Homo sapiens: one gene and its partners. The protein of the gene in region 2 purifies or fractionates together with the protein of the main gene of each other region. This does not show direct contact. Each region holds a gene or a part of one and is shown on either strand. Other genes may lie near its edges. The genes, in order: CAMK2N1, CAMK2B, MYO1B, STRN, AGPAT5, SLMAP and CIBAR2.

Region 1 (4,072 bases), on a different chromosome or scaffold from region 2:
TCCTCCCCCCATGGATTCTGGCTTCCCGAGGCCAGCCAATCCTTTTACACCGTTTGGAGAGGGGGCTGGACTGACTCCCCCCTCCACCAGATGTTATACCAGGAAAAAACCTTCCCCTTCTGCCTCCAGCTCCCACCCGCCAGAGTTCTAGATAGGAGGGGAGAGCTCCTTTCACTGTTGATGGGACCCCTTGCAGGGCAGCAGGATGAGCCAGGTGAGACTCACCTGGGCCACCTGGATGTGTTTCCTAGCCCTGCCTCCAGCAGCTGGCATGACCTTGGGGTGGTTGCCCCTCCCTGTGGTCAGGCCGGCTCTACTAAGCAAAGACGGTCTCCAGCGGAGGGCAGGTGCTGTTGGCTCCGGCGAGGATAATGAGCGCTCCTCATGCACCTTGCCCCCTCGGAGTTACCATCTGCTTGGCAGATGCGCCTCCCAGGCCTCTGGGGCTGCCCCAGTCTCCCTCCCGGCATCGAGGAGCCCGCTCCTCCTCTCAGAGGCCATAGTCTCTCCACAGGGCGCACGGCTGTTGCTGGAAGGGAGACCCCCGAGGGCAGAGGGCGGCAGACCCGGGACGTCCCCAGCGGAGGCAGCGGACGCCGGGAGCCAGGCATCCCGGGCGAGCCCGGCGTAATGAGGCGCTCCCTTCTCCTGCGGGAGGCGGGGCTGCCCCTTCCCTCTCCCCCTCCCCCTCCTGGAGGCCCTGCGGGAGCCGGAGTCCAGCGCAGTTGGGCGGGGGCGTGGGGGAGTGAGGCCTTCCAGGTCGGACTGAGCCGGGGCGGGAGGAGAGTGTGAGGCCCCAGTGGCTGGGCCCTCAGGGTCTGAATTGGGGAGCAAGTGTGGTGGGGAGGAAGGGCTCCCCGGTTTGCAGATGGCGGGGGAGGCTATGTCCGCGGGTCGCCCTGGAGCCCTCCGATCTTTGCCCCGCAGCATCTGCCCCCCAGGGGGGTCAGCATGCTTCCGCCCTTCCCCGCGTGTGCGTCGTCTGTCCGCTCCCTCTCCAGCTCCCGGAACCCCCACTCCCCCCGAGGTCCCCTCGGGAGGCAAAGCCGGCTGCGGGGCGGGCGCGCACCAGCTCCGGGCCCCGTAAACACCCGTGAGCGGGACGGCGGGGGCTGGGGGCGGGGGCAGGAAGCTAGCGGCAGCCCGGGCCGGCCGGCGCGGCCCCGTGACGTCGCTCCGCTCGCAGGGATCTCTCCCCGAGGCCCGCGGGTCCCCTCCTCCCCGCCTCCTCCCGCCCTCCTCCCCGCGCCTCGCCTCGGCGCCGCGGCCGGCATTTCTCCTCGCAGCTCGCTGCCTCCTCTATCCCTGCCTCCCTCTCCCCCCTCTGTTTTTCTCCCTTCCTTCCCTCTCCGACCCTCTTCCTCTCCCTCCCGATCCTTTCCCTCCTCCTCTCATCTTTCCCCTGTCTCTCCGTTCTAGCTCGTCCCCCACCCCACCTTTTCTTCTTTCTCCTCCTCTCCTTCCTCTCCCCCTCTCCTCTGTCTCCTTCCACCGTCTCCCCTGCCTCCCTGTCTTTCAGTCCCTGTTTTTCAGCCCCGTCTCCCTCTCGGTTTCTCTCCCCCACCCTCCCTCCGGGTTTCCTCCCCGGTGCCCTCCCTCCTCTCTCCCTCCCCTCCCCCTCCGCCCCTCGCAGCCCCGCCGCTCGCAGCTCCCAGTCTGCCTCCCCGAACCGGCGCCGCCGCCCGCACTCGCCGCAGGACCGGCCCGCCCGGCTCCCGGGGTGCGCCCTCCTCGGTCCCGCGCCCTCCGGGCTCGCAGGGACGTCTCCTCCCTCCCGGCTCGCGGCCCCGCCCGGCCCGGCCCCCGCCCAGAGCCCCAGCGCGCCGAGGATGTGAGTCCTGCTCGCCTCTGGCGGAGCAGCAGCCACTCGCGCGCGGAGCCGGAGCGCAGCGCAGCGCAGCCGCGGGCGCTCTCCGGGCCGCTCGCGCGAGTGCCGCGCTCTTGCCCTAGCGGCGTCCCCCGGCCTCTCGCCGGCGCCACCGCCGCAGCAGCCCGCGGGCCGTCCCCGGCCGGCCGCCCCCGGCCCCAGCGCCGCTGACCCTGTCCGCCGCGGGCGGGGACGCGGGCGGAGGAGGCGCCGCGGCGGAGCCCCCGGACGCGACCATGTCGGAGGTGCTGCCCTACGGCGACGAGAAGCTGAGCCCCTACGGCGACGGCGGCGACGTGGGCCAGATCTTCTCCTGCCGCCTGCAGGACACCAACAACTTCTTCGGCGCCGGGCAGAACAAGCGGCCGCCCAAGCTGGGCCAGATCGGCCGGAGCAAGCGGGGTGAGTTCGCGGCCCCCTTGTCTGACACCCCCTTTTTCCCGCGCCGCGGCCTGAACAAGGGTTGCGGAGGTCTCCCACCCGCTGGAGCCCGTTCAGACCTGACGGAATCCCTTCTTGCAGAATTGGGGGATCCCGCACTGCGGGTCCGGCTGAAGCGGGTCGCAGGAACGCGTCCCCCTAAGCCGGATCCCCGGCTGGGTCACCCTGGGGGCGTGGCGGCTTCTAGCAGCAGCTGGGGGTCTCCACCCGCGCGGCAAAGTTTGCTTTTTGATTTGCGCCCCCCACCCCCGCCTTTTGCGCAGTGTAGTCACAGCTGCACTCGCTCCATAACCCTGTGGGGAGGGGGTCCCAGGGACCCCCAGGGGACGGCGTGGGGACCTGCGTGGGGAGGATCCCATTCCTGCGGGGAAGGCTAGGGTGTTCGGGTCGCACGGGCTTTTCATTGTTACTTGGCTTGGGAGGGGGTTTGCCAGGCCTGGGCGATCCGCGCGAGAGCTGGAAAAGCCCCAGAGAGGCGGAGACGCAGAGAGGCTCCGAGAGGAGCTCCAGAGACGCGGGGACAATGAGGGGGACCGACGGCTGCAGAGAGAGACTGAGACGCAGGGATGGAGGGGAGGGGGTACGCGGGAGACCGAGGGTGGCAGAGACCGAGACAAAGCTCCCGAGAGGGGAGCTGAAGCGGGAGAGACAGAGCCGAGGACGCGCGTTTGGGGAGGACGCAGAAGCCGCCGAAACAATAAGGGCGACCGACACCTTAGACAGGGAGAGACAGAGACCTCGATCGGCTGCCGGCCGTCGCGCCGAGGGACGATGGAGGGACTGAGAAAGGCGAGGCTAAGTCGAGACGGTAAGAGAGGCCGAGGTTACGGCATGTGTCCCTGGCAGGCAGCGAAGGGAGGCTCTGACCTCTGCGGCAGCGGGGAGCGCGGGGCGGCCGAGTCAGTCGGCCAGCGGCTGGGAGAGGGCGCGCAGGAGGGGGCGCCCGCCCAGGCCAGGCCCTAACCCCCACCCGCTGCGCGTCGTGGGAACCGGTTTTGGCGTCCCCTCCTGGTTCCGCTCATCTCCGCACCTAGCCTTGCCCACCGGAGCTGCGCTCGGGACTTACCTGGGGTCCCGAGACCCAAAGACTTTGGCTCCCTCTCCTATCCCAGCTCCAGACATTTCTGTCTAAATTAGTGCGCCTGGTGCGGGGAGGACGCGGGCCAGTGCGCGCCCTGGCTGCAGCAGGAGCGGCTGGGTTGGCGCCCTCTGTTTCCTTTTCTCAGAATGGAGCTGGGACGCAGGCTGGAGGATAGAGGGTGGTGGGTGGTTCAGAGGAAAGCAGGGAAGGGACCCCTGGCAGGGACGGAGGATGGAGCTGTTTCACCGCGCAGTGAGCCCTGCTCCCTCGCCCTCTCCTCTCCCGACCTCCCACTCTGGGCATAACGGGAAATGTCAGAGACCTCTGGCTAGGCCCCAGCGCGCTCACCTCTCTTTTCCCCCCTTTTTTTGCAGTTGTTATTGAAGATGATAGGATTGATGACGTGCTGAAAAATATGACCGACAAGGCACCTCCTGGTGTCTAACTCCCCCAAAGACAATGAGTTAAGGGAGAGAATAAGAACGGCGGTAACAGTTATTGGCAAAAAGCATGAAAAGAGAAAGCACTTTGAAATTTATTACTAGCTTGCTACCCACGATGAAATCAACAACCTGTATCTGGTATCAGGCCGGGAGACAGATGAGGCGAGAGGAGGAGGAGGAGGAGGAGAAGGCTCTGGGCTCCTCTGCAAAAATAAAAATAAAAAAATAAATAAAATTTTA
Region 2 (3,500 bases):
AAAATGCATTATGTATCAACTTGGTTTTTAAAAAATTATCATATTGGCATATTACACAGATATGTATATTTTATTCATAGAAAAACTTGAATTTATTTAAAATGAAAACATCCTTTTATGTTAGAGAAAGGTGGTGTTGCTAGCTGCCAAACTTTTGGGTGGCTTTTGTCTCCTGGGTTAGAGGGTCACTTGTTGAGGGCTCAGTTCCTGGTGGACATAGTTCTTTTTGTATTGACATAATTATCCAAAAATAACTTAAGTTATGATTCTTTGTTAAGCCAGACAGAAGCTTTTGTTGAATTCTAGAACAGATTGGCAACAACCAGGCAAAGATTTAAGAAGATTTTATGGGAGGAAGCATAATGGCACACTTGTACAGGGTGGAATTTGGGACCCACAGTCCTTGTTTCCTCACTTTGTGAGCAGCAAGAGAAGCCTGGAGGGCAGGAGCTGCTGTCGCCCTTACAATGAAGTACTGCAGGTGTTATGCCTTTTGCTGTAATGCCCTCTGGGTGTCAAGCACATCCCAGTGAGTGCCGTTTCCAGCAAGGAGCTGAGGAGCCTTGATTCTGTCACCCAACACACCCTGAATTCAAGTGCTGAGAACAGTGCCTGGCACACAGTAGGTGCTCCACAGTGACTCAGCAATGGTCTGGGTCACTCAGGCCTTGCACCTGGGACTGCTTCCCAGAGCAGTGGCACACCCACCCTGTAAAAGATGAGGGCCTTATAAGAGGTATTGGGTGGCTCTGCAGGTAGGTCTTGCGGGTATTCTGATGTCCAGTCTGGGTAGACAGTCTTGTCACCCGGTGAAATGCAGTAGCAGGGCTGTCAGCACTTATATGTCTGTCATGGAGCTTGACTCCAAGAGGCTTGCAGCTTTCAGCTAATTTCTTAATGAGGTTGTTCACATGACTTCTTGTTTGTTGAGGTGCTGCCTGATTCTCAGCGTCTGTGAGTTTGATCCAGGCCATTAGTTAGGGGCTTTCTGGGCAAAGGGTAGGAGTCTGGTTAGGAGCAGGCCCTCCCAAAGAAGATGACCATGTGGTGGTTCTCAACCCCAACCACACATGGGAAGCCCCTGAGGAGTGTTCAGGCCCCATCGCATTTAGCCAGACACTAGGGAAATGGGGTATCAGCAGTTTTTAAAAGCTCCCAGGTGATTCCAATGGGCACTGCATACCTAGACTCTGCAGAGGAGTCTGCACCTGAGGCCAGACACTCGCCTAAGCCCACACTCCTTCATATAACCCTTGGTTCTTTCAGAGCCCACCTAGGCATGAATTTGAAGTTTACCTTCATTTTCTCTACATTCACAATGACATTACTACCCCACCGCCCACCCCATCCAAGTTGTCGAGAGCTGCATTGTCCAGAAGAGATAAAATGTGATACAAAGTTGAGCCATATGTGTGATTAAAAATTTTCTAGTACGTAAAGAAAAAAAAGAAACAGGTGAAAGGAACTTTAAAAATATATTTATTTAACTTTATATCCAAAATATCATTCAGAGGCCTGGTGCGGTGGCTCGTGCCTGTAATCCCAGCACTTTGGGAGGCCAAGGTGGGTGGATCACTTGAGCCCAGGAGTTAGAGACCGTGGGCAACATGGCAAAACCCCATCTGTACAAAAATTAAAAAATCATTTCAACATGTAATCAAAACAGAAATTATTAAGCTATTTTGCATTCCTTTTTGTACTACGTCTTGAAATCTGGTGTGTATTTTACCCTTACGGCACATCTCAGTTTGGACCAGGTTCTTATGACTACATGGTGACAGTGACCACAGTATTGGACAACACAGGGCCAGAGCTTCAAAATCACCATGCTTTTTTTTTTTTTTTTCATTTTTCCTGGTTTCTTTTAAGGATAATAGTTACAGTCATAGCTGTCTTAGTCTGTTCCAGATTTCTTTTGCTCTCCTGAAGACTTATTCATTTATTCAGCAAGTCTGGTTGCCTGTACTTACCATGTGCCATAGGTGCTTGGGAAACAGTAGTGAACAAAGCAGTCAAGGATGCCTGCCCTTAGGGAGCTTATATACTGCTGGATAGAGGCAGGCAATAAACATAAATACTAAAAAAATTATATGATAGGGTAGAAGGTGATTAATACCTCTGAGAATAATTAAGAAGACTCAGGAGTGCTAGTTAGGAGGAAGGTTATTATTATAAAAAGGATGGTAAAGCCAAGAAAAAAGAAGACTCCAATTGCTAAAATCAGGAATGACACAGGGGACCTTACTGCCAACCTTACAGAAAAAAAATTATAAGGAAATAACTATGAATAATTATGTGCCCTCAAGTTAGATAACCTGGATGAAATGGACAAATACTTAGAAAGACACAAACTACTGAATCTGGCTCAAGAAGAAATAGAAAATCTGAATAGACCTATAACAAGTAGAGACTGACTTAGTAATTTAAAATTTTCCCACAAAGGAAAGCTTAGGCTCAGATAATTTCACTGGTAAATCCTACCAAACATTTAAAGAAGAATTAATACCAGTCTTTTACAAGCTCCCCCAAAAAGTAGAAGAGGAGGAAATTCTTTCCAATTCATTCTGTGAAGCCAGCAATACCCTAATACCAAAACCAAAGATATCACAAAACTACAGACTGTTATCACTTATGAATGCAGATGAAGCATCCTCAACAAAACACTAGCAAAATAAATCTAGCAACATATAAAAAGGATTATTTATACATTATGAACAAGTAGGATGTATCCCAAGAATGAAAGGTTCATTCAGCATACAAAAATCAATCTATATAATACACCACGTTGATAGAACAAACATTGAAACTATATGAACCATTTCAATAGATGCAGAAAAAGCATTTAAAAAAAAACCAATACCATTTCATGATAAAAACTCAACAAATGACAAGTAGAAAGGAACTTCCTTAACTTGATAAAATACATTTGTGAAAAATCTGCAGCTAACCTCATATTTAATGGTGGAAAACTGAATGTATCTGCTCTTTCCATTTCTAGGCAGCACGGTATAGGAGATTCTAGCCAGGGCAATTAGGCAAGAAAAAGAGATAGAAGGCTCCCAGATTGGAAATAAATAGTTATAGCTACCTCTCTTTTCAGATTACATGCTTTCGTATATAGAAAATCCTAAGGAATCCATTTAAAAAACTATTAGAACTAAAAAATGAATTTAGCAAAGTTGCAAGATGTAAGACCAATATACAAAAATCCATTGTATTTCAATGGACTAGAAGTTCAAAATAACAAAATTAGGAAAAACAATTTACAATAGCATCTAAAAAATAAAACACTTAATACTAAATTTAATAAAAGAAGTACAAGACTTGTACATTGAAAACCACAAACCACTGTTGAGAGAAATTAAAGAAGACCTAAATTAATGGAAAGACATCCCATGTTCATGGATTGGAATATTTAATATTGTTAAATAGTAGTATACTCCAAATTGACCTACATTTTTGCTATGAAAATTCCAGCTGCGTTTTTTGCAAAAATTGAC
Region 3 (3,500 bases), on a different chromosome or scaffold from region 2:
TTTCCAGTGTACACCTTCTCTCTCCATCATTGCTGCTTTGCTTTACATTTTATATTAGATCCTGAATTGCTATTTGTGATGTTCAGATTGCAAATATACTAGCTTCCTAACTGATCATTTTTTCCCTTAAAAGTACTTCAGAGTGATTGGTCACTGTTTTATTCATTTTAGACCCACAGTCTAAATGCTTTAAGGAAAAGCTTAATTTTCATAGACATTGGGCCTATGCCAATTTGCATGGCTTGTTATTTTTGTGATCCTCATATTATCTGCTTCTAGTCATAATCGGTAGATCACAGTTTTGAGCTACCCCTGATATAGTGAGCCATCTATGAAAAAGTTCTCGCTTGCCTGAAATTTTCAAAGTGTTGAGAGCTATTCATAAAAATGTATGAACTGCCACGTTGGTCAGGTTCAGGGCTTATTTGCCGTAGTACTCTGCAGGTATTCTGTGACATTCAGGAAGGAAAATAGAGTTAGACTCCTGATGTCAGCTTTGTAAAGGTTCATAGATGTCTCTTGAGTATCTGTAATTACATGATCTCTTAAAAACCTCTTATCCATGTACTGAAATTCATCTTGAATTGTTTATTTTTATCCTGCATTCACACAATTCACACTTTAAAGATAGAACTTGATTATATTGGTATTTTTATTTCAAATTTTCAATTTTTGGAATGGCAGAATGTTGCTATTGAAAAGTGTCTTAAAGGTCACCACTGTAACCCCTTCATTGTGCTTGAGACCTGCTCAGCTCCTAAATTTAACAGGGGACGGATCTGAGAAACTGACTCCAAGTTGTAACCTCTTGCTTAGTTTTCTTTCTAGGGAGATATCCGTCTCTCCAAACCTGTCGAAATCTAAATTTATTACCTCTTACCTAATACTTGGTCCCCTGTGGACTTCACTTCACTGTTTGTGCTAATAGCCTTTTCATCACCATCTTGACTTTGGATTCTAGAGCATCACCTACTTCCCCATTTTCTGTGACCCTTACATTCCTCCTGTCAGTCACTATGTCTGATTTATTGTTCTCCCCTATCTTTTGCCCTTTGCAAATCCTCAAGCCCTCATTCTGGTTCAGACCTTTAAAAGGCTGAGTTACTGGAGTATAGTGTTACCCAAAGTGAGTTGTTCCATAAAAAATTAGTAAGTTGGAAAAAAAAACAAAAAACAAAAAAATACCCTACCCATAAAGTTGGTAAATGTTCCTGTAAAAAGGGTTCCTTGGCCAGGTACATGTTAGAATAGCTGGTTAAGTTTCTTTGCAGAAAGACTTCTCCTGGCCTTCATTTGTGACTGTGTACTGTGAATTCCCAAGAGAAAGATACAGTATTCACTTGTCCCAACTTATGTCACCATTGTACCACGTTTTGGGGGGATCATTTCGTAGATAACACTGCTATAGTCACTTCACTGTAGCTTTTTAGGTTCTGTCACTGCCTGGCTTCCTGTGGGAATGTGCATTCCATGTGAGCCGTACTTGGTTCACTCTCAACTGTGTCTTGTGCTTTTACCTTGTTGTTCTGGATCGTTCCTTCCCCCCAGAAGCCCCTCTCCCCTATCACACTGGCACATCTTTCAGTGCCCAGCTTTGTGCCTGTCTTCTCTGTCAGTTTTCCCAGACTCAGGTTGCGCTTGTTCTTCTGAACTTAACTGTTTCACAACTTAAAAAAAAAAAAGAAAATATTTGAAGCACAATGAAATGTTGAAAGTAACCTTACACATTCATATGGTTAAATTATTGGAATTCCCACAAAATTCCATTTTCCATATTTGCGTCAGTTGACACATCACATGCACATCACATTCTCCTCTGTTTCCCCCCACAGGTTAGCTTGCACATATGTTCAACAAGCTTGTTGCTTGTGGGGCTTTTTTCTTTAATTTTGTGTTACTGAAATTGTGTTGCATTTAAATAGAAATTCAGGGAGAATTGACATCTTTATGGTTTAATGGCTTCCCATCCACAAACCTCATAAGCTTCTTTAATAGTTCTTTTATGTCCTTCAATGAAATTTTTATCATTTTGTATGTAAAACTCTTTCATACCGCTTGTTAGATTTGTGCCAAGGTGCTTCATGGTTTCTGTGGTCATTTTGAATGAATGATTTAGTACATTTCTGGTTAGTGTTGCTGGTGTACAAGAAAGGGATTGATTTTGTATTTGTTTATAAATAGTTCTTGATTGATCAAGTTCACATCTAAACCTGTGTTTGCTGTGGGAGCCTGCAGTTGGGTGGCTTTTCCAATACAGCATAAAATAACTTAGCCTTTATTGAAAATGTCATAATTCACTTTATTTTTATTTATTTATTTATTTTTTGAGACAGAGTTTCGCTCTTGCTGCCCAGGCTGGAGTGCAGTGGCATAATCTTGGCTCACTGCAACCTCCACCTCCCAGGTTCAAGCAATTCTCCTGCCTCAGCCTCCCGAGTAGCTGGGATTACAGGCATGCAACCACCACGCCTGGCTAATTTTGTATTTTTGGCAGAGATGGGGTTTCTCCATGTTGAGACTGATCTCGAACTCCTGACCTCAGGTGATCCACCCACCTTGGCCTCCCAAAGTGCTAGGATTACAGGCGTGAGCCACCGCGCCCGGCCTCTTTTTTTTTTTTAGAGACAAGTCTGGCTCTGTTGCATAGGCTGGAATGCAATGGCATGATCGTAGCTCGGTGCAGCCTCATACTCCTGGACTCAAATGAGCCTCCCACCTCAGCTTCCCAAGTAACTAGGACTATTGGTGTGCGCCTCCATGCCCAACTAATTTTTAAATTTTTTGTAGAGGTGATGTCTCATTGGTCCCAGGCTCCTGGCCTCAATCAGTTCTCCTGCCTTGGTTTCCCAAGTGCTGGGATTACAGGTGTAAGTCACCACACCTGACCTAATTTAAAAATTATATGCAGTACTTTTAGAAGTAAGGAAGGGGTGACTTTTAGTTATTTAATGTGTTCATTTATTAACTCATCAAATGTTTAGGTGCCTAGTATGTTTCAGGCACCGTACTAGGTACTGTGTTTTTGTTTTTGTTTTTGTTTTAGAGACAGGGTCTCTCTTTGTTGCTCAGGCCGGAGTACAGTGGTGTGAACATAGCTCACTGCAGGATCGAACTCCTGGGCACAAGTGATCCTCCTGTCTCCACCTCCCAAGCAGCTAGGACTACAGGCAGCATCTCCACACCCCACTCATTTTTTACATTTTTTTGTGGAGACGGGGTCTTTCTATGTTGCCCAGGCTGGTCTTGAACTCCTGGCCTCAAGTGATCCTCCCTCCTCAGCCTCTTGAAGTGTTAGGATTACAGGTATGAGGCACTACACCCATCCTGTACTGAATCTTTAATGTTGAACAAAACAGATGTGGTTTCTGCTCTCATGAATGTGAAGGGGAAGAGACATTGTGGAAATGGACACGGATAAATATGTATTCGTGGATTAGCATCGATACTGTGAAGGAAAAGGACAGGGGGCTGTGAGAAACAGAAAGGCGGAGAGAGGGAAA
Region 4 (3,500 bases), on a different chromosome or scaffold from region 2:
ATTTCTATAGTGGTTTATGTCTCTCTTACTCTTTGTCCCAAATGACAGAGACCAATCTAGAAATTGGAAATAAATTATTAACGTCCAACTTTCCACCAAAAAACATATAAATAGGCTCTTAGATTTTAAAAATATTAAATCTATAGATATTTTAACCAATTAAAACAATTTCTACATATTCCATTCCCCACATTTTCCATCGTCATAACAATGATGCTTCTCATGATACGTACATCTACTCCTTGAAAAAGTATTCTGGTGGTGGTGTGGCTAATGATTGACAAATATTTCTGTAAAATTTCTGCCTGTTTGCCTCTAGAATTCTGCATTATACAGGCAAATTTTCTTTAAAGCTAGAGACTTGTGCTAAATTTGCCTGATTTTCATACAGATATGCTGTAGTAATACAGCTACCTTTTCATTTCATCTTTGTGCTTTGGTTAACAAGCAGGCTCAAGAGACTGCTTTGTGTAATTAAATGAATTGACCTAAACATGAGCTGTCAGGTGAATACTTAATATTTCCATGCAGATACAGAATTCCATATTGTGTTCAGTAAATTTCTTTTGGTTCTTCACAGTGAAGAAAGAATGTTTCTAACCTAACATTTGTAGAAGGATACTGGAAAATTCCTTCCAGGAAGGAAGGAAGGAAGATGCCATTACTTGGTGTATTTATGATGGATGACCACAAAGCTATTGTTCTACCAGTTATTAATTACCTTCTAAGATCTTCAGTTACTGCTTTATTAATGTCACTGAAATTCTAAAAACCAGGACATTCTTCCCCCGTTCATTTTATGCTTCATGGTTGAAATTTTTCTGTCAGTGAGTGGAAAATAACCATGAGATACATAGACTGTAGCGCAAATGGAACTGTTGAAAGTTCCTTAGAAAGCCAGTGCTGTGGCATTGGAGACTACGGAGAGAGTCTTCTCTACCAGCACTGCATGATCTCAGCCTAGAAATGAGCCAAAGCTGTCTTCCAACCAGAGTAGCATATACATGTGTCTGACTTTTCCCCTAGCCTGTTGAACATTCAATGAAAATTCACAGAATGAACAAATTCAATGTTTAAACAGCCATTGAAATGCTTTCATAGTGCTTCATTTGTAAATATTTTGTTTGAAATGTATTGGAATAGTATGAAAATTAGCGGGAGGTTTGGATCCCTGCCTTATTTTCATATGCTGTGGATACATCTCTGGGAGCTTGCAGCACCCTTCTCAAAACTCAACTGTCATATGGAGCTCATTTGCTACTCAAACCATAGACAGATTATTTAACAAAAGTGATATAATGACCTTCAGTATTTTTCTATTGAACAAGTTTAACAACTTTTGCCATTAAACAAATACTTAGTTATGCAAAATATTTCGCTTTTATAATCATTTTAGTTATGACTAAAACGGGGGAAATTGAGCTGCATCACTGATGATGAACTTTGTGAGAAATTTTTTTTTTAATCTGACTTTCATTCCTTCAGTATTCTTGCTATAAATTTCTTTTGGAGATAATGATGAAGATTTATTTGAAAATGTCTAAAATGTATGTATATTTTATAAATATATATTATATATATTGTAAGAATATATATAATATATAAACTATATATATATATATATATATATATATATATATATATATATAAACCATAGGTGCATTTTACTGTTTTGTATTTTCATTTTTGGAGGTAGTATACACAGCAGATAATGATGAGTATGATGAGTGTTGTGCTGTTTGCTTTTGCAGTATAATATATAGTTCTAAGTGTTTAAATTACTGTATATACAATATTCATTATAGGCTAGCATGCTTGTTTTAAAGACTGTCATTCTAGTGTATTAAAATCTGAATGTAAGAAAACCTGGCTATTCAAATGTGAATTGAAAAATATTTTATTCTCAGTACTGAACTATTTCCATTGAACATTCAGACTTTTTAACAAAAACAAATATCATCAAGAAGGCAATAGCTAGAAAATGAGAGGTGCCTTTAAAAAAAAAAATGCAGCCTTACAGTGAGGATGAAGATTGAGTTTGGGGAGGGGGTGGGAGGGGGGGCACAGAGAGAGAGAGAGAGTTAGTGTGTGTGTGTGTGTGTGTGTGTGTGTGTGTGTGTGCATGCATGCGTGTGTGTGTGTGTGTGTGTGTTTACCAATCTGTGAAGGTCCTGATTTGTGACCATCAATGTCTTTTTAATGTATCTGCTCAACTTCTAGGACTTCAGGGGACATTTCATGCGCTTTGTGCTCTTCTGAGCACCATATATACTTTCCAAGAATTTTGAATGTGAATTCCTAGAAATTTCAGTAGAGAAAACAATAGCTATTCTTTAATTATAGTAAAGTTCAGGTAGAAGGAGAAATTATTTGTTCACCAAAATTATGGGATCTCATTAATGTTGGCTAAGTAAATGTAATTTTTTAAAGGCTCACTTTTTAATACTTCATATATTTCCCTCTTACAAAACAGCATGTCATGAAGTTCTTATGTGGTAAAGATTCAACTAGTAAATATTTTTAGGTTAAATACCTGAACTAGTTAAAATTCCACCTAAGAATAGTCTTAAAATATTTAAAAAGCATCTCTCATATCTACCTCTTTGTCATTGCTGCCATTTTAACTGAAGCAAATCTTTATGACATCTGAAATGATGGTTGGATGCAATTAAAAAAAAATCTATGTTGGTGCTTTTCTCAGGCTTTGTCATTTAAGTTATATTGTATTAAGATGTCACAAATCAGACTGAAAGGCTTAGAATTAATTTTGTTTTTCTTTGAAAGAATTGCTTAAAATTAACCATCAATGTTTTTAGCGAGTGGAGATAATGAATCTTTGGTTGGTGTCTGTCTGTGTGATGTTTTCAACCAATAGCCAAATAATTATTGAACTTACATGAAAAAGAGTGCTAAGTATAATTTTATTTAGATTACTTTATTCTTTGAAAGTGACTACAAGGCTATTAAGTACATAATCATTCATTTTATTTACTCAGAAGTTGCCTCTCCATTACTGTTAACTTGTTTAGTAATTTATATAATTGCAGTACTTTTAAGTGTTGGACACTGGGATTCAGGTTGTATACAAAGTAGTAGCTGACGAAAAATATGTATATTTTTGTGAAATGTATCAAGCCCTAAAGTTCATTTTAGAGAAAGGCCCAGAAAAACGTATCTGTGTTTAAAAACAAAGGACAGGTCATTCGTCAATTTGAATCATTTTTACTTTTGCCACTACAAACTTTTTAATTGGCAATATCCATCATCCAACTGGATCTTCATGTCAGTGTCAGGGATGCCAGGTTGACAAAGTATTTAACAGATCCTTTCAGTTTTTGTTTTGTTTTTTTAATTCTAAAAAAAACAAATGTTAGGCCAAACAGATCCCTAGATCCCACTCATTGATTCTGGCGGTATTCCTAAAGTGGTGCTTAGGGGGTCAGAATTTTCTGGATCTTTGCTAATCCAAGCTTTAGATTTAATTTAACCAGGACCACATG
Region 5 (3,500 bases), on a different chromosome or scaffold from region 2:
CCAGGCTACCTGACTCCACCATGTGTGCTCTTCCCTAGGGCACAGTTGTGCTGCTAAAAATACTTTTTAAGCAGTTCTTTGATTATTCAGATGATAGTACTGTAGGAAAATTAAGACAAAAATAATGAAAAATTAAAATCTTTATTTTAGTGTTTTGCACATGTATTATTAAAGCCAGTTTACTCCTGGAAGTGTGTAAGAATACAGGGTATTTTTGATCACCTAAATGCTGCATGTTACTAAGAGCTCGACACTGAAGTCAAGAAGAGCAGTTGCAGAGAGTACTTAGCAAAAACGGGAAGTGTGTGGGGTTGAAGGAGCAAAGACAAGTCTTCCTCGGACGGTGGAGTGTAGAATTCATCATTTCTCAGAACACGTCTTTGAACGCATTTTCAATTTGAGGCCAAAGGTCTCAGCCTCCCACTCGGCATACCTCCCTACCTTAGTCAGCTCTTAAATCTTAGGAATATTTCTTTGTTCTTCAAGGAACTTAAATATGTTAACATTCTTACCTGTCCACAGGGAGCCCCCTACAAAGAAGGGAGTTTCTAGTCTCCGTTCTTTCTTGGAATAAATAATAGCCTCATACCTTGTGCAATCGAGGCTGAAAAAGACTGTCTCCTTTTTTCAAATAAGCAAGTCTTAGAAACTACAGTTGTTTACAGGGCTCATGGCTATTCCACAGTAATAATTTTGGTTCTTTTACCAATTATATAATATGTTAAAATATGGCAAGTATCAGGAAAGCAAGGAGTGGCAATGATTAGAAACCAATGGCCAAGTTAGAGAGGAGGGGCAATTGCTCCCCCAAGTTTGTTGTGGCTGTGTAGCAGTCAGTGACGAGAAGCTGTGTGTCAGGCGACAAGCAAAGTTGAGGATTATCAGGCGCCTGTGAGTGCCCAGCTGTGTGCCAGGTCAGGAGGTGCCATCGTGAGCCAGACCAGCTTCCTCTCGGCCCCTGTGGAGCTCGCAGTCTGGTGGGGAGGCAGCAGTCACCATGGTGACAGGTGACACACTAGGATGGGGCTGGTGGTGGTAGGCATTTGCGGGTCCCTTCAGAGAGGTGAGTATGGACTTAGAGGAGGCTCCAGCTTCCTATTCCTGGGCTGTCTATAGCACTAAAAGTTGTCACATGAAAAATAACATTTGGTACTATTGATTTAACTTAATGACTTATGTAATTGTAGTTGACTTAGAAATTATAACATGCTCTTCTACTTCAGCTTGAAACCCCCAACCACCAGTTTATAATCCTTTTTTTTTAACTTTTGTTTATTTTTCCTAAGGAATCTGTACTTTTTCTTCATTTTACAACTTTTTTTGTCCTGTTACCTTATTTTCATTTTTACTTTATATGACCATGAGTTCTAAAATAGTAAAAAAAAAGAATTATTTTTGTTCTTTGTTAGAATTTCTCTGCAAAGAATGTCCAAAAATTCATATTCACATTGATCGTATCGACAAAAAAGATGTCCCAGAAGAACAAGAACATATGAGAAGATGGCTGCATGAACGTTTCGAAATCAAAGATAAGTGAGTAACAACAGTTCCAGCACTTCCGGAACTTCGGTTCAACTAGATTTCAGTATAGTCAACAATTTGAAACCAATGTAAATGGTTATATTGTCTCAAGAATACATTTTATAAATTCAAATCAAATTTTATGCATGTCTGATCGTGTTTTAAACTTTACTTGTACAAATCAGTCTAAAAGAACTTGTTACAGTGGGCCCATCTACTTGCATTGATAGTATTTCTTGGACAATACTACGTGATAACATAGCAAATTAAATTAAAAACAACAACAAACACACAAAAAAACTTTCCAGTGTCAGATGCCCGGACCTACCTGTCAGGTCACATAAAGTGGTGTTACTGTGTGAGGTCTGGCTGTTGGGCCAGTGTGCGCAGAAAAGCAAGGGAGGGGTAGAGGACTATGCGGACGTGCAGGTGGACATGATGCTGTTATATTTGTTGGAAATAGAAGGGGGCAGTTGACAGCGTTATATCCAAAGTGTCTTCTGTGGTTAATTATATTCAGAAATTTTAGCCAATTGTTTTATTCTCTAAATATGTACTTTCTGCTCAAGAAACTATCATTGTTCTTCTTTTCCTTGTTTTACAGTACAGTGTTTTTAATTAACCCTCCTGGGTTAACTTTACCAGGTGAAAATGATTAAAAGTGTAATAGGTTAACAATGAAACTTTAAGCTTCTATTTTTCATTGACTCTTAACTGTACATGATGTAATGTATTCAGCGAGCCATTCAGGACCACTTTGGCCCATGGAAGAAATTTAAAAGTAAGATCTACATGTATTGACATGAAAATATGTTCTCAGAAAAAAGACTAATGTATTTAATGTCCTACTTATTTTATAAGTATTTAGAATACCTCTGGACATTTTAAAACAATGATTATTGCTAGGGTGTGTGATTTATAAAGCAATAGAAGCGCTTTCCCTTTCTGTTTGTGTTTTAGATTATTATATCGGGTATGTTCTGCTATCATAACTTTACAAATCTTATGTAATATGGGAAAATGAGTTAACTATGCTGTTTTCCTTCTTTTACCTGCCTTTCTAATTCTGTGGGAATAAAGGCGTTTTTGAGACAGCCCAGGTGCAGTGAGCAGTCCATATCCATGGATTCCACATTCATGGATTCCACCAAGCACAGACCAAAAATACTCAGAAAAAAAGGGGGCTGGCTGTGGTGGCTCATGCATGTAATCCCAGCACTTTGGGAGGCTAAGGCAGGCAAATTGCTTGAGCCCAGAAGTTCAAGACAGCCTGGGCAACATGGCAAAACCCTGTCTCTACAGAAAATACAAAAATTAGCCAGGCGTGCACCTGTAGTCCCAGCTACTCAGGAGGCCGAGGTGCGAGGATCACCTGAGCCTGGAAGGTTGAGACTGCAGTGAGCTATCATTGTGCCAACTCCAGCCTGGTAACAGAGTGCCTTTTTTCAAAAAAAAAAAAAAAAAAGGATTTGGGAGGATATGCATATGTTATATTCAAATACATGCCATTTTATTCATATATCAGGGACTTGAGCATCCTTTGATCTTGGTCTCTGCCGGGTATCCTGGGACCAGCCCCCTGTCGATACAGAGGGACCGCTGTCTAAGAACCGCTGGTCCTATCTTTGACTTCTGGCGGAATAGGAGCTCCATGTAAAAAGGAGGAGAAGCTGCAGCGGGTTATTAGCCATTTGTGAGTCAGGTCACTGTAAAACTTTATCAAAAGTTTAAAAGACAAAAAGCATCCTCATAAAATGCCTTAAAACCACCTGTTGAAATATTACATATACAATTCATGTATACTAATCATAGAGCATATTAAAGATATTTTAGAAGACTAGAAACTTCTATTAAACCAAGTTTCTGGATGTTTCCGTATTCATCCTTATTTTCCAGGGACCTGCATAACTTTTCCAGCGTGTAATAGCTACCTGATTGATATTTTTTGAATTGAAATACTGAAGTGACTAAAATCTAAA
Region 6 (3,500 bases), on a different chromosome or scaffold from region 2:
GGGTTCAAGTGATTCTTCTGCCTCAGCTTCCCAAGTAGCTGGGATTACAGGCATGAGCCACCATGCCCAGATGCCTGGCTAATTTTTTGTATTTTTAGTAGAGACAGGGTTTCACCATTTGGCCACGCTGGTCATGAACTCCTGACCTCAGGTGATCTGCCTGCCTCGGCCTCCCAAAGTGCTAGGATTACAAGTGTGAGCCACGGTGCCCAGCCTAGAATGGTTATTAATTCCTCTGTTGATTCAAGGCACCACTGAGCAAGCAGATCTACCCATATAGTGGTTACATAGAAAGGATAGTGAGTGAACTCTTGTGATTTGGATGGCCCTATTTGATTTGAGGCTTTGGGGTACCGGTGACATGCTAGTGGTTGACATAGTAGTCTATTTCCAGTTTCACTGAAGTTTACTTACTAGTGGTAGTAGTTGTCTACTTCTAGTCTCACGTTTAATTTAAACTTAGTGCATCTTTTTTTTTTTTTTTGAGATGGAGTCTCGCTCTGTCACTCAGGCTGGAGTGCAATGGTGTGATCTCGGCTCACTGCAACCTCTGCCTCCTGGGTTCAAGCAATTCTCTTGTCTCAGCTTCCTGAGTAGCTGGGATTATAGGCACACACTACCACGCCCAGCTACTGTTTTTTATTTTAGTAGAAACGGGGTTTCACCATGTTGCACAAGCTGGTCTCGAACTCCTGAGCTTAGGCAATCCACCCGCCCCGGCCTCCTAAAGAGTTAGGATTACAGGTGTGAGCCACCGCGCCCGGCCTAGTGCATCTTTTTGAGCACCTGTTCTATCATGATTTGTTTTAGTGAAGGGCATAGTGGTAAAGGGGGAGAAAATGACAAACTGATGAGGATTTGTTATTTCTTCTTTCTAGGAACTTTTACATTGGATAGAGAGGGTGACAGTGCACTTTGAAAATAGTTGAGATAGGTGATATTATGTAAGTTTCAATGGCAAAAGAATAATGACATTTGACTTTAAAATTAGGGGTGGATAGATAAGAAAAGGTGTTTTTTTGGTTATTTTTATTTTTTTTGTGGGGATGAGGATGGAATAAAAAGCAGATAATTTTGAATGAGCTTTGCATTTTCCAAATGCTGAGGAAACTGACTTTGTTGGATTAGAGAGTTCTTTGAAGAGTAGCCAAGGGTGCACATCTATTCTGTGTGATGTTCTTGTTTGTGCCTTGTCTTTGTAATTAATTTTCACACTCTGGAAGACAGGAACGTTTTCCTACTATCTTGTATAAAGTAGTTGTTGAATAAATGAAGCTGACTAGATAGTGTGGTGCCAGGTTGTGAAGTGCCTTGCTTACCAAGCTTAGGATGTGGACCCTTGGGTTATGGAAGGCCTACGAGAGTTCTGAGCAGAGCACTGACATACCAAACCCCTGTTTAAGAAAGAGTGGGCCGGGTGCGGTGGCTCACACCTGTAATCCCAGCACTTTGGGAGGCCGAGATGGGTGGATCACCTGAGGTCAGGAGTTTGAGACCAGCCTGGCCAACATGGTGAAACCCCACCTCTACGAAAAATACAAAAATTAACCAAGTGTGGTGGCATGAACCTGAAATCCCAGCTACTTGTGAGGCTGAGGCAGGATAATCACTTGAACCCAGGAAGCGGAGGTTGCAGTGAGCAGAGATCCCATCTTTGCACTCCAACATGGGCAACAGAGGGAGACTGCATCTCAAAAAAAAAAAGAAAAGAAAAGAAAGAAAGAGTGATACAATAGTGATACAATAGCAGTATGTAGAGTTGCCTGGAGCAAGGAAAAATGGGTAACAGCTTAAATAACACTTTTGTACTAACTATATACTGGGCCCTATTCTAAATGCTTTACTTGTTAACTTATTTAATCTTCAAGTAACTCTTTGAGGTGCTTGTTTTTTCTGCATTGACCTGTGAGGAAATTGAGGCACAGAGAGATCTTGGTCAAGTTCACCTAGCTATTAAATGGTAGAATTGAGATTTAAACTCAAGCTCATAACCACTGTGCTATTCTAAAGGCTTTATAACACTTTAGATATGATGTGATTTTGTGAGGGCATAGACCAGGTTAACAGTAGGAATGAAAATGATTAAATGCCAGAAAATGAAAAAAGATAAGAGTATTAAATTAACTTGCACATTAGGACTTCGGCAAAGCGCAAGGTCCTGTGTGAACTGAAGACTTTAGGGAAAGTTTAATGGATGAAACAGTTTCATGGATGAAATCCAATTTAAACTAGACCTTAGGACTTTTAAAAAGAGGAAGAATGGCCAGGAACAGTGGCAAATGCCTGTAATATCAGCTACTTGGGAGGCTGAGTCTGGAAGATTGCTTGAGGCCAGGAGTTTGAGGCTGTAGTATGCCAAAATTGCACCTGTGAAAATCCACTGCACTGCAGCCTTTGCATCATAGCAATAATTTGTCTCTAAAAAACAAAAAGTTCAAAAACTTGTATTTGCCAGGGGTGCATCAGGTCTGTAGCCCCACCTATTTGGGAGGATGAAACAGGAGGATCACTTAGGCCAGGAGTTCAAGGCTATAGTGCACTATGATTGCTCTAGCCTGGGTGACATAGTGAGACCCATCTTAAAAAAAAATATGGGGTTAAGGGATAGATTGTAGTTAGGGTCAGTCAGGGAAAGGAGTTTTGGGTGGGAGGAAGAAGCAGGGATGATACGGCATGTTCCAAGGACATTGTAAGGAAGACATTGTGAAGAGCCTGCTGAATTTGACAACCAAGATTGTTTCTTCTTTTTTCCTCCACACATCTAAACATGACCACAAAGATCCTAGCCTCAGCTTTTGGGAGAATGGCAGGTCATACATTCTTTTACTTTTTATTTGTTTGTATGTTTGTTTTAACAGATACTTAAGTTTTTTGTTGACAGAAGTATAAAGATCATTAAGGGGTGCTGGTGTTTGTGAGAAAGTCTTTTACTTGACAAGTTGTATTTAAGACACATAATGTGAACATGTATAGGAAGCCAGATTATATCTTTAAAGCACATGTTCATTTCCCTCTATATTATTTTTCATAATAGTGGGAAATTGATAAAATATTTTATCTGTGATTTCAAATTGTTAAAAATATCGACAGTGTATATACTTAAAGCATTTTTTTTCCCACTTAGTTCTTTGACATTACTCCTTAGGTTAAATTCACTCTTTGCCCTTTTAGGCTTCTGTCTGATTTTCTTTCTTTTTTTTTTTTTTTTGAGACGGAGTCTTGCTCTGTTGCCCAGGCTGGAATACAGTGGCGCGATCTCGGCTCATTGTAAGCTCCGCCTCCCGGGTTCACGCCATTCTCCTGTCTCAGCCTCCTGAGTAGCTGGGACTACAGGCGCCTACCACCACACCCGGCTAATTTTTTTTTTTTTTTTTTTTTTTTGTATTTTTAGTAGAGACAGGGTTTCACCGTGTTAGCCAGGATGGTCTCGATTTCCTGACCTCGTGATCCGCCTGCCTCAGCCTCCCAAAGTGCTGGGATTACAGGCGTGAGCCACCACA
Region 7 (2,308 bases), on a different chromosome or scaffold from region 2:
TCTGTTCTTCAGTCTCTCGCCAGCCAGGTGAGCGTGTGGGTGGGTGAGGGGTTACACCTAAAATGTCGTGCACGGCCTGGAAGGCCCGTGGTAGTAACCCCAGGGATTAGAGGAGGGTGGCTGAGAACTCGAATTTGAAATGGGAGGCTGAGGAGGCAGGGGTGGTGGGAGCATGGAGGGCTGCCCGGGGGTCTGACCAGAACTTTGCCTTGAAGTAGAATGAAGCTGGGCACGGTGGCTCATGCCTATAATCCCAGCACTTTAGGAGGCTGAGGTGGGAGGATCACTTGAGGTCAGGAGTTCGAGACCAGCCTGGCCAAAATGTTGAAACCCCCATCTCTACTAAAAAAAAAAAAAAAAAAAAAAAAGCAAAAATTAGCCGGGTGTGGTGGTGTATGCCTGTAATCCCAGCTACTTGGGAGGCTGAGGCAGGAGAATCGCTTGAGCCCAGGAGGCAGAGGTTGCAGTGAGCCGAGATCGTACCATTGCACTCCAGCCCGGGTTACAGAGCGAGACTCTGTCTCAGGAAAAAAAAAAAAAAAGTAGAATCAATGAAGCCACGTCACCCAGTGTGGTAGGCCACACGGTCCCTGCCGTGGCTGCCATGGGTCCTGAGCACTCCCTGGAGGCACTCTGAGGTATTGCCACTTGAGAAACAGAGGCCCCCAGTCAGGTCCACACCTCCATCCCAGCCCGTGGGCCCGCGGGTTCCAGAATCCAGGGTTCCTCAGAGGTTAGGGAGGTGATTAGGTACATACATTAGATGTTACCTTACAGCCCCAGGAAGGCCTGCCATCAGGTGCATTTATATTTCTGCAGGGAACTCTGCAGGTCCAGCTGAGTAGGGCAAATGAAGACCCTGAACATCCTCATGCCAATCATGGCAGGTTTAGTCTCTGTGAGTGGGTGGTTAAGGGGCAGCCAGCCCACTGTGTGTGTGGGCAGGGTGGGCATCTCATGCTTCCAGGACATTCTCTCTAACGACGTAGGGTAAGTGCAATCCCAAGCCGTTTAAAATAATCCCAGACTGCCTGGAGGCTTTGTTCTTATTTTCTGATTCTTTTTTCTTTGTCTTTGTTGGATTGTGTTAATTCAAAGACCTTGTCTTCAAGCTCTGAATTTCCTTCTTCTACTTGTTCAATTCTGTTGCTGAGACTTTCCAGAGCATTTTGCATTTCTGTGAGTGTATCCAATGTTTCCTGAAGTTTTGATTGTTTTTCTTTATGCTATCTATTTCTTGGTCCGAGCCCACTGCTCCCGGCGGTGTGACCTTGGGAAAGTCTCCTAGCCTCTCTGTGCCTTAGAGTCCTCGCCTGCAGAGTGGCTTAGAACAGTAACCTCCGTGTAGGGCTGTGCTGAGTATCAGATGAACAGATCTATACGAAGCACAGAAAACCCGGCCTGTTGCGCAACAAACACTTGAGACTTGTTGCTGCCATTATCATTACTGATGTTGCTGTCGTTTTATTATTATTATTATTTAGAGTGCTCAGAGCACCATATGGAGCCCAGGAAAAGAAGGGGAGGAGAGTGAGGACAACTCCATGGAGGAGGCCCCCGTGGAGGACCTCAGGGCACTGGGGCAGGGACCCCATAAGAGAGAACTGCCCACAACAGTCAGAAGAACTTAGCTGGCCTTGGATCCTCAGGTGGGCTCTGCTGTGTGCCCTCAGGCAAGCCACGTGTCCTCTGAGCCTCAGTTTCCTCATCTGTACAACAGGGCCAATATCACTCACTTCACAGGTTGCTCTGGGGGATCGCTGTGCCTGGCATATAGTAGGTGTTCAATAAATGCCCTGTGACTCTCAGCTTGATCCCGGCTCTCTCATTCTGCCTTTAGTCTGGGGGCTTGGGTGGGACGTGCCTGCCCCTGTGTTCATGTTGCAAGCACAGTAGATTCCTTTCCTGGGCTGCCTTGACAAAGCACCACTGCCTGGGCAGCTCAAACCACAGAAAATCACTCTCCTGTGTTCTGGAACCCAGAAATCTGCGAGCAAGGGGTCAGTAGGGCTGTTTCTTTTTGGAGGCTCAGAGGGAGCACCCATCCCAGGCCCCCTCCAGCTTCCAGTGGCTCCTGTCCTTGGCACGCCTGGGCTTGTAGCCACATCCCCCGGACCTGGCCTTCCTCTTCATGTGGTGTTCTCCCAGTGTGCACTTGAGCCTGTGTCCAAACCTCCCCCTCCTATAAAGGACGCCCATCATCAGAGGCCCACCTTACTCCAGGATGGCCTCATCTTGACTAATTATATCAGCAAGGACCCCATTTCCAAATAAGGTCACATTCTGAAGTATGGGGGCAGGTAGGACT

The links.
Region 1: the proteins of CAMK2B (region 2) and CAMK2N1 purify together in Homo sapiens (affinity purification with mass spectrometry, with the first as the bait; one large-scale study listed by BioGRID). This does not show direct contact.
Region 3: the proteins of CAMK2B (region 2) and MYO1B purify together in Homo sapiens (affinity purification with mass spectrometry, with the first as the bait; one large-scale study listed by BioGRID). This does not show direct contact.
Region 4: the proteins of CAMK2B (region 2) and STRN purify together in Homo sapiens (affinity purification with mass spectrometry; 2 studies listed by BioGRID and IntAct, with this or other methods). This does not show direct contact.
Region 5: the proteins of CAMK2B (region 2) and AGPAT5 purify together in Homo sapiens (affinity purification with mass spectrometry, with the first as the bait; one large-scale study listed by BioGRID). This does not show direct contact.
Region 6: the proteins of CAMK2B (region 2) and SLMAP purify together in Homo sapiens (affinity purification with mass spectrometry; one large-scale study listed by BioGRID and IntAct). This does not show direct contact.
Region 7: the proteins of CAMK2B (region 2) and CIBAR2 purify together in Homo sapiens (affinity purification with mass spectrometry, with the first as the bait; one large-scale study listed by BioGRID). This does not show direct contact.

Annotation. Positions count from the first base shown.
Region 1 is NC_000001.11:20,483,411-20,487,482, reverse strand, and holds the start of CAMK2N1 (calcium/calmodulin-dependent protein kinase II inhibitor 1), read left to right. Parts: upstream 1-1,272; 5' UTR 1,273-2,103; coding exon 2,104-2,269; intron 2,270-3,763; coding exon 3,764-3,834; 3' UTR 3,835-4,072. UniProt on the Homo sapiens protein: Potent and specific inhibitor of CaM-kinase II (CAMK2). Plays a role in the maintenance of long-term retrieval-induced memory in response to contextual fear.
Region 2 is NC_000007.14:44,315,595-44,319,094, reverse strand, and holds part of CAMK2B (calcium/calmodulin-dependent protein kinase type II subunit beta), read left to right. Parts: intron 1-3,500. UniProt on the Homo sapiens protein: Calcium/calmodulin-dependent protein kinase that functions autonomously after Ca(2+)/calmodulin-binding and autophosphorylation, and is involved in dendritic spine and synapse formation, neuronal plasticity and regulation of sarcoplasmic reticulum Ca(2+) transport in skeletal muscle.
Region 3 is NC_000002.12:191,251,904-191,255,403, forward strand, and holds part of MYO1B (unconventional myosin-Ib), read left to right. Parts: intron 1-3,500. UniProt on the Homo sapiens protein: Motor protein that may participate in process critical to neuronal development and function such as cell migration, neurite outgrowth and vesicular transport.
Region 4 is NC_000002.12:36,844,537-36,848,036, reverse strand, and holds part of STRN (striatin), read left to right. Parts: 3' UTR 1-3,500. UniProt on the Homo sapiens protein: Calmodulin-binding scaffolding protein which is the center of the striatin-interacting phosphatase and kinase (STRIPAK) complexes.
Region 5 is NC_000008.11:6,753,642-6,757,141, forward strand, and holds part of AGPAT5 (1-acyl-sn-glycerol-3-phosphate acyltransferase epsilon), read left to right. Parts: intron 1-1,409; coding exon 1,410-1,533; intron 1,534-3,500. UniProt on the Homo sapiens protein: Converts 1-acyl-sn-glycerol-3-phosphate (lysophosphatidic acid or LPA) into 1,2-diacyl-sn-glycerol-3-phosphate (phosphatidic acid or PA) by incorporating an acyl moiety at the sn-2 position of the glycerol backbone.
Region 6 is NC_000003.12:57,762,809-57,766,308, forward strand, and holds part of SLMAP (sarcolemmal membrane-associated protein), read left to right. Parts: intron 1-3,500. UniProt on the Homo sapiens protein: Associates with the striatin-interacting phosphatase and kinase (STRIPAK) core complex, forming the extended (SIKE1:SLMAP)STRIPAK complex.
Region 7 is NC_000016.10:85,097,858-85,100,165, reverse strand, and holds the end of CIBAR2 (CBY1-interacting BAR domain-containing protein 2), read left to right. Parts: coding exon 1-27; intron 28-819; coding exon 820-981; 3' UTR 982-1,484; coding exon of another isoform or gene 1,485-1,631; 3' UTR 1,632-1,808; downstream 1,809-2,308. UniProt on the Homo sapiens protein: May play a role in ciliogenesis. In cooperation with CBY1 may facilitate ciliogenesis likely by the recruitment and fusion of endosomal vesicles at distal appendages during early stages of ciliogenesis.